Homo sapiens: one gene and its partner. The protein of the gene in region 2 purifies or fractionates together with the protein of the main gene of each other region. This does not show direct contact. Each region holds a gene or a part of one and is shown on either strand. Other genes may lie near its edges.

Region 1 (3,759 bases), on a different chromosome or scaffold from region 2:
CATATATGTATGTATGTATATATGTTACAGTGAGGGTATAATCACTTTTATATGTGTCATTTCTGTGTTTTAAAGGGTACTTTCACTTATAGGCTAATATTTTTTAAACAATCAAGAATAATCAAGGAAACCTTATTTATCTAGTGGATTTATGTTTGAATAATTTCAAAATTATTTCATCTATTGCCCCACTTTCCCAAGGCAGTAAAATTTAAATAAGGCAGATATGAACATACCTAAAATATAAAACAAAATAAACTCAAAGTATAAAGGAAGAAAGCATCTAAAGGTATGCCAGTGAAGGGGGAGATGTTTTGACACTAACAGAGAATTTCAGAATTTTCTAGATGTTTAAAGAACATCTAGTCTGATGTGATATCAGCTACAACCACTCTGGGGCTCAATTTTAGGGATGGAACCTAGTTGGTCTTAAAAGGTTTTTCTAATTATAAAATTCTATGAACCTATGAAATCAAGGTGCGAAGGGATGAAGTGGTCTGTCCTATGAAATCAAGGTGCGAAGGGATTAAGTGATCGGTCCAAAGTCACGTGACTGGCCAGACACACTGTTTAGAGTCTAGGTCTCCAGGTTCTGAGTCCAAAGGTTTTACCAATTCACCACTCACATTCTGATTCATTCTTAATTTTCTGTCTTTTTAAAAAATTCCCAGGCAGTGATGAGAAATTCTCTAGATGTAGTACGAAGAGCCACTTACAGGTGAATTTGTGTAGTTCTTTTCCACTAGTATGTTTCTGGCACAGTTGTTGATATGTTTAAAGCGATCTGGTCCTAGCAGAATCCCTCCATACCAGCGTGATACTACCACCATGACATTCTTCACATTCAAAATCTGTTATTTTTTGGAAGCATAATTAGATACATAGACAGACATGTATAAATATGAGTTTTAAAAAAGGAGAATGAAATAACCCATGTATAAAATTGCACATAAAATTTCCCAGTGACTTTAATGGTAGAGCCATATGAGTGAGTAGGCACTGAGTGAGATTACTAACAATTCAGGGAGTGAAATGGAAGAACAGAAGGGAATCTGGAAAACCATCACTGTGTTTCACAATGTCCTCAAACTCCCAGATTTGGGGCAACTGGACAGAGTGAAGGGGAGACCATGCAAGTAGGATTCTAGCACCTGGTGACTTCAACCAGAACAGCTAAGTTTAGGCAGCATTTTACCACTAGGCCAAATAACAACAAAAAAAACCCTGCTTCTGAACAAAGCTACAGGGGCTGCACGAGGCATCAATATCCCTGGTGCTATTAGTAAGGTTTCATCAGTTGAGATCTAGATCAGTCTCACTCTGTCACCCAGGCTACAGTGCAGTGGCACAATCTTGGCTCACTGCAACCTCTGCCTCCTGGGCTCAAGTGATCCTCCCACCCCAGCCTCCCAAGTAGCTGGGACCTACAGGTGCATGCACCACCATGCCCAGCTAATTTTTGTGTTTTTTTAGTAGAGACAGGGTTTCACCATGTTGCCCAGGCTGGTTTCGAACTCCTGGGCTCAAGTGATCTCCCCGCCTCAGCTTCCCAAAGTGCTAGGGTTACAGGTGTGAGCCACCATACCTGGCCGTCTTCATCAGTTTGACATTTGTCAAATGCTGCCCTTAATGTGAAGCCCACCAGTTTACAGGCCTGACCCACAAACACAGTTACTATTCAAGGGAAAGGCCTTGTTAGAAAATAAACCTTCACATACAAGAGCAGAAAAAACCAGGTAACTACCTTAGGAAAAAAATAATCCAATCCTAAAATTAATGAACAATAAATGATCACCAGACAGATGAAGAAAATCCAGCAGCATGAAAGAGAAAGGACAAGATAAACAAACAAAAATGGACCAGGAAAAATTTTTTTAGGGGTGAGAACATCTTAAAAAAGAAACTCTAATTAATATAATCAGAGAAATTTTAGAAGATATTGGAGCCATAAAACAGAACAGGATATTCTTAAAAAGGAAAAACAGAAAACAAGAAAGAACTCTTAAAAATTAAATATATGGCTGCTAAACAAAATTTCAAATTCAACAGAAATTTTGGACAACAGTCAAGAAAATGTCTCAGAATATAAAGACAATGAGATGGACAACTCAATTTAAAAAAAAAAAATTCTGGATCTATCCAGAAGTTCCAATATCCAACTAACCGGAGTTCCATAAAGAAAGAATAGAAAAAATAAAGAGAAGGAAATTGTCAAAAAAACAAAGTGTTTTCCCAAAGTTGAAGACAATCTTCTATTGTCTATGTCTTGAAAGCATAGCACTTCTTATTAATTATTTGCTTTCTGTCCCACATCCACTGGTTAAAATTTTCATTCAATCAATATTTTAACATCAACTACTAATTAAATCAAATATATCTTATGTTACATAGTTCAACTGACTTAGCTATTACTAAATGGAGCTCTGTTTTGTTGAGAAATTTTATGGCTTGTACAGAACAGGATTGATAGTTTAACTTACACCTACCTCCATGAGATGAAGAAGACGCCCACCAGCTGCTGTTTCCCCATCATCCTCACAATCCTGTAAGAAGGTCTGTTTATCCTCACAATATATTCTGCAAATACATGTAAGAGTATTACACTTTGAAACTAAAATATTATAATAAAACTTATTCCTCAACATTTGTGATCATTTTGATTACTTCCAAAATCAGCATATTCATTTTTTTAAATCCTTCCTGAAATATGTATTATATTAGATATATTTTCACTGACGGTTTACTATCCAGTATGTTTGCCTTTTTATATACTTGGGAAAGCTAGGAATCAAAGGCATCTCCTTTATATCAGAAATGTTGCTATTATGGGAAGGTGAATTTATCCATGTGACATTCCCCTTACTTCATTTAACCTTGAAGTAACAAGAGCAATCATTGAAAAACATTTATTGAGAATATACTGTATAAAAGCAACAGGTACTAAGACATATTATAAAGGAAGTAAGTGGCATGCATCTGTCTTCAAAGAGCCTTAAGATGTAGTGAAACAAAAAGCATATAAAAAAAAGATGAAGGCAACAAAACCAACATAAGGTAATATTTTATACTTTCCTCTCATCTTATTCCAGCCATCAAGCATTTCTCTATTTTCTTCTAAGAATGTAAAGATTTAAATTTTCCTCTGGATGGTTACTAATATTAGAGACAAATCGTGGTATTTTTATCCATTTAAACTAGAAAGCTATATCTGAAATAATAATGTAGGCCTACAATACAGTAAAATAAGCTTGGCAAATAAGTGCTAGAGAGAGAAAAAAAAAATAGTGTCAGTTACAGTATGCCATCTGGTGGATTTCTTAGGGCCCTACCAATGGTATCATGTGGAACTGGGTAAATGTAGTAAAGACATCCTCCCAGCTCTGGCCATAAAAAGCTGTAAACTTTTAATGTAAATACTAAAAGCTATAAAAGCTCATCTACACACCTAAGTCAGTTATGTTACCTTACAGCAGTCACATTCATTCATTCACTCATCCTTCCTTCCCTTCATCCATCCATCCACTCAATAAATATTTACTGACCATCTACTATGAACATTAAAGTTAAAATACTATGAGTACTTTTTTCTTTTTTTACATAGCTTAGATACAAGATTGTTGAAGCTGTAGCCACAGCCATAGAGGAGTGAAATAAAGAAAACAAATGAAATTGGATTATCAAATTCAGCTCCATCACTTAACTATGGGATCTTGAAAAAGCTAACCTTTTTACAGTGCTAGAATTGCTAACTAATAAGAG
Region 2 (4,727 bases):
CATTTAGTCTAATCTCCTGCATTATGGACATACTTTTTCATGCAGCATTCCTGATCTGAGGTATCTATCGTGCAATTTGTAGAAGGTGGGACAGAAAACAAACAAACAAACAAACAAATCTTAAATATCCTTAAACTACAAAGCAATTTTCTTCACCTCTGAGCAATGTAACACTGTTCAAACTGTTCTAAAATGCATCCAGAATAAGAGTGCTTCAATAGAAATGAGGAAACTTTGGCAGGCTTTCAACATACTTGACACAGGTCAAGAAATAATCAAGATTTTTTGGTCATTCTCCACTTGGAATGGGTTTGCTCTAGGTGTTGGCAGCTGAACATACATGTCTTGCTCTAGGCAGTTGCTTAGCAGTTTGGTTTTCTTTTGCTTTTGGGAATTCAGGAAACAGAGGTGGGTGGTCAGTGGGAGAAGGTTGATTGTCTAGAGACCAAAATGAATTAAATACTTTATTACCTTTCCAGTAAAGGGGCTGTGAGTCTAACTGTATGTGTGGTTCCCTCCACCACACCCTAAATCAAAAGTTCCATCCCTGGAGTCTCTTTAATTCTAGAGACACTGAGATTTAGCTCATACAGAAGGAGAAAATGACCTTCAACTGGATAAGCTTTCCTTGAGTACCCATTAGATACAAAACACTGCTGGATGTTGCAGTGAGAACAAACAAACAAAAAGCACAGGGAATACTCATATGTGAGTGAAGAGATAAATCTATAAATATATAAGTTCCGCAAGTGATTGGCAAATAAAATTCTGAGAGGGCAAAGAGAGGGGAAAGATTTCTGCCTCGAGTCAGAGGACTGGGGTAGCGGAAAAAAGCTTTAGAAAAAAAGGTGGTATTTGTAGAGTCTGGAGAGGCGGGTTCCTCTGCCCCAAACTGGTGTCTACTGCAGATATGGTAAATAATTAAAATCATGAAATAAGAACATCACTAAAACCATTAATTTGACTTACTCTTAAAACACACGCGCGCACGCGAGCGCGCTCGCACACACACACACTGGCGTGCGCGCGCTTTTTTAAGGGGCCTATAGACTCCATTTCGGCTGCAGGTTAAAGTCATCCCAGGAAGGAGAAAGGAAAATTGAATTCCACCTTCTTCTGATTTAGAAAGCTAGATTGGTTGAGGATCGGGATCAGGGACCACAACTCAACCCCGAAACTTTGGGCTTCCAGAACTGCAGGGGAAACTGATTCTGAGATCAGACAACGGACCCTGGGGCGGGAGGGGGGTACCTTATTCATAACCCTCCCTCACAATAGCGGAGCACAGTACTCAGCACCCAGTAAACACTCATTTGTCGAATTGATTTTAAGCCTCCGCTTTTCCCCCAAGGAGGGCAATCAATCCCTTGCACGTTTTGCTCCTTTCACCAGCTTAATTCAGCTCTGATCTCAGTAGTTAGAAAAATAGGAGAAAGAATGGGGCCATAGCCTGCTGCAAGTAGAGCTGTGTAAGGGGGTGCGAGGAAGGCAGGCGAGAGCAGCAGAGGGAGTTAATACTCCTACCTCAGCTGGTCTCCGGCAGCCAACGCTCAGCCCCCGCCTCCTCTCTCCATTCCGGACCCCGCAACCGCGAGGCGAGAGAGCAGCGCCGGCGAGGCACTGGCTGGGCTCTGACTGTCACGTTAATTCCCTGCTGCTTTTTCTAGTCCCCAGCCGCCTCGCCCCTCCTCCCTCATTCCCAGCCTGGGTTTGGAGGCGATTTCCCTCTATTGACTGAGCCGACTGCATCTCTGGGCAAGCGGCGCTTTGCCTCTCTCCTGTCTTTGTCTGCTCTTCCTGCAAGGCTACGGCGCCTGGAGCAGGGTCTGCAGCGGCCGCCGCAGCAACGCGAGCCAAGTCGTGCCCCGCACGGCCGCCCGGGGCCGCACCCTCGCTCGGTGGCGGCGCCCGAAGACGCCAGCCGCGCCACGCACTGCCTGCGTCCCGCGCCCCAGCCGCCGCGCACCAACGCCGCCGCCTTCGCCGGGAGCCAAGCCCGCCGGGCCGGCCCGGTCCCAGGTGGGCAGCTCGGCTTGCAGCTGGTTGGAGGTGGCGGCCGCTGCAGCCCTGGCAGCGGGCACACCCCTAAGCATACGCACCCAACGCCTCCTCCCTGAGCCACGAGGATGGAGCAGCCACCCCGGCCCGGGACTGGCGCAAGGTAAGGTGCAGCCGCCTGTTGCTTTTCGCAGAGCGCGGGATCATCCCTCTGCCCGGGTACCTAGGCCGTCCCTCCAAGGAACAAGTAGAGGAGAACTATTACACCAGTTCTAAGCCGTGCCTGTCTAAGCCTCCCTGATCCCTTTTGCGCAGACCCTGGGAGAGACCTCCTCCTGGAGAGAGAGAGTCGACCCTCTTCGCTCCTGTTCAGCCGGCTGCTATACAATAGTCTGCAAACTTTTGTGACCCCTTCCCTGCGCGGTGCTCACCCCGTGCTGTGCAACTTGCAGGTTTAGTTCTTGCCCTTCCCCCAGCCCCTCTTGCCATATGCATCTGCCCATTTCTCTCTGTGTGTTCTTGCCAGTCGACTTTTCACTCCCCGCAGCTCTGGCTCCTGAGGCGAGGGTTTGGGACCCAGCAGTGCTCGTCCTGCCTCTAGGAGCTGGGTAGGGACAGAGAAGGTGAAATAAGAGAGGTGGGACATGGAGGATGGCTGCGGCCACCCCTGAAGCTTCGTCCAGCGCGATGGGAGTCAGTCCATCCTTGCACACGCCACCCCCAACTCGGCAATGAAACCTTTGGAGTGGCTTGCGGCTGTGCGCCGTGGGAACTGCAAGTGCAGATATGGGTGGGTGAAGTAAGTGGCTCAGGGAGGGAAAGGCTGCTCGTGCGGTGGAGGAGGAAGCTGAGGGTCGGGTAGATCTGCCCACGGTTGAGGGAAATGAAAAGGTACTGCTAATGTGGGCGAGCGGCCAGCCCTGAGAGGCCATCTGACGAAGAGGAAAAGGGATTTGAGTCCGGAGGGCGCTGGCCTGGGTATGTAAATACAGATGGGGGAGGGGCTGGGTACCTGGGGGCGCGTGGAGACAAGGAATGGAGCCCCGGAATGCCGGGCCCTTGGGTACTTGGGAAGGCAGGCTGCTGAGTGCCTGGGATGGGGCGATCTTCCTCCCCAGAAGCAAACAAACCTCCCCGCGAGAATCTGAATGCGTTGGCATCTTGGGTGGTGACTGAATGGTCAGATCGTGGACTAGGGATGCTTCTCCAAGCTCTAAGAGGACCATAGTCTGCTCTCTTCTCTGGCACCCGCTTGCTTCTACGCTCCTTCACCTCTGCAGCCAGGTCGGTAGACCCACGCCCACCTTCCCTGCCAGGCACTCAGGAGTCAAGGATGTTTCCACAGCCGCAGTGTAGGAAGGGGACTCCTGCCTCCCAGGGGGAGACGTGTGTGCGGGGTAGAGGGGAGTCCCCAGCGCGCGGCGAGTAAACAGGGGTCCAAAGTGGTTGGAGGAGAGCGCAGGAGCGGAGGCTGCGGTGGGAGCCACTTTCCCCCGCCCCTCCACAAATCGCACCTGGGCGGAGCGAGGGAGTGGGGGGAGCCCTGTGCTGCGCCCGGGAGGCTGGGGAGCGCAGAGCTGGAGGGCGTGCAGGGAAACGCAGAGCTAGGAGGTGTGGGCCTCGGGTGAGGGGAGACCCAGCTCTTAGACCTGGGAGCCCAGACAGAGGTGGATCTGCCCACCTTGCAGCTCCCAGGTAGATTCTTCTTGTGGCTCCAGATGCTCTGGCGAATGCAGGAGGGGGAGGCTCTTTTCTCCTTTGCACCCCAGCAATCTGGAGTGCAAGACCGTTTGCGGGAGGGGGCTTAGTCGGCTGTTTCGAAGAGGCAGCCTCCCCTCCCTTTTATCCATCAAGCCCCCTATTTCCTGGTGGGGGCACAGTGACTGCCAAGGCCAGTAAGCACCTCACTTAACCCTTCTCTCCCTGAGGAGGTGCATGCTCCTCTCCCAGAGGTGCCTTTGGCTGAGAGTGGATCCCTGGTTCCTAGTAGCCCTATAGGGAAACATTTGGAGGTTGGGTGGGTTTGGAACCCTGTACAACCTTTAGGTCCTCCCTGTTCAGACCTTCCACGTGCAGGCTTTTCTTACTTTCTCCGCGGGTGCCCTACAGAGGACTCCTGCTGCCTTGTACCAGTTGGGAAAAAGCAAAATTCAGAGCAGTTCCTTTTTCTGGGTCCCTCGCCTTGGCCACATCGGAGGAAACGTCGACTCGCCAGGGCTCCCGGGAGAAATCCCGAGGTCAGTCCCTCCCATTCTGGGGCACCCCTGGAGCAGCTAGCTCCCTGCCTAGCGGTGGCAAACTCCAGAGCCCCAAGGAGCAGAACGGGGATTCCCTGTGCGCAGGCTCCTGGTGCAGCTCCTGAGCACAAAGGCCACACCCTCACAGACCAGGCCTGGTGAGAGAGCCGGGCTTCTTCAGAAGTACCTGGATACCTGAGGTAGGATCCTAGACTTGAAACTCGCACTCCACGAGATTTAGCTCTGACCCCCCCAAGGCTCATTTCTTTCTGGGTGCTTATCTATCGCCTGAATTTGCGCTCTGGCCACTTCTTTTTGCATGTAGAAACAAATTAGACCATGTTCCTTGGCAACTTGAGGAAAGACTCCAAATCCACACCAAGGTGGATTTATTTCAGGTTGCTGAACTGTTCTGGGGAGACAAATAGTAATGTAACAATCAGTGCTAGCTAGCAGTTGTGGAGTTCTTACTATGTGCCAGACACTATCTTT

What was found. The genes of interacting proteins can lie anywhere in the genome.
Region 1: the proteins of LRRC3B (region 2) and IMPACT purify together in Homo sapiens (affinity purification with mass spectrometry; one large-scale study listed by BioGRID and IntAct). This does not show direct contact.

Annotation. Positions count from the first base shown.
Region 1 is NC_000018.10:24,446,911-24,450,669, reverse strand, and holds part of IMPACT (protein IMPACT), read right to left. Parts: intron 2,578-3,759; coding exon 2,487-2,577; intron 852-2,486; coding exon 717-851; intron 1-716. UniProt on the Homo sapiens protein: Translational regulator that ensures constant high levels of translation upon a variety of stress conditions, such as amino acid starvation, UV-C irradiation, proteasome inhibitor treatment and glucose deprivation.
Region 2 is NC_000003.12:26,621,077-26,625,803, forward strand, and holds the start of LRRC3B (leucine-rich repeat-containing protein 3B precursor), read left to right. Parts: upstream 1-1,695; 5' UTR 1,696-2,161; intron 2,162-2,522; exon of another isoform or gene 2,523-2,976; intron 2,977-3,004; exon of another isoform or gene 3,005-3,282; intron 3,283-3,569; exon of another isoform or gene 3,570-4,435; intron 4,436-4,727.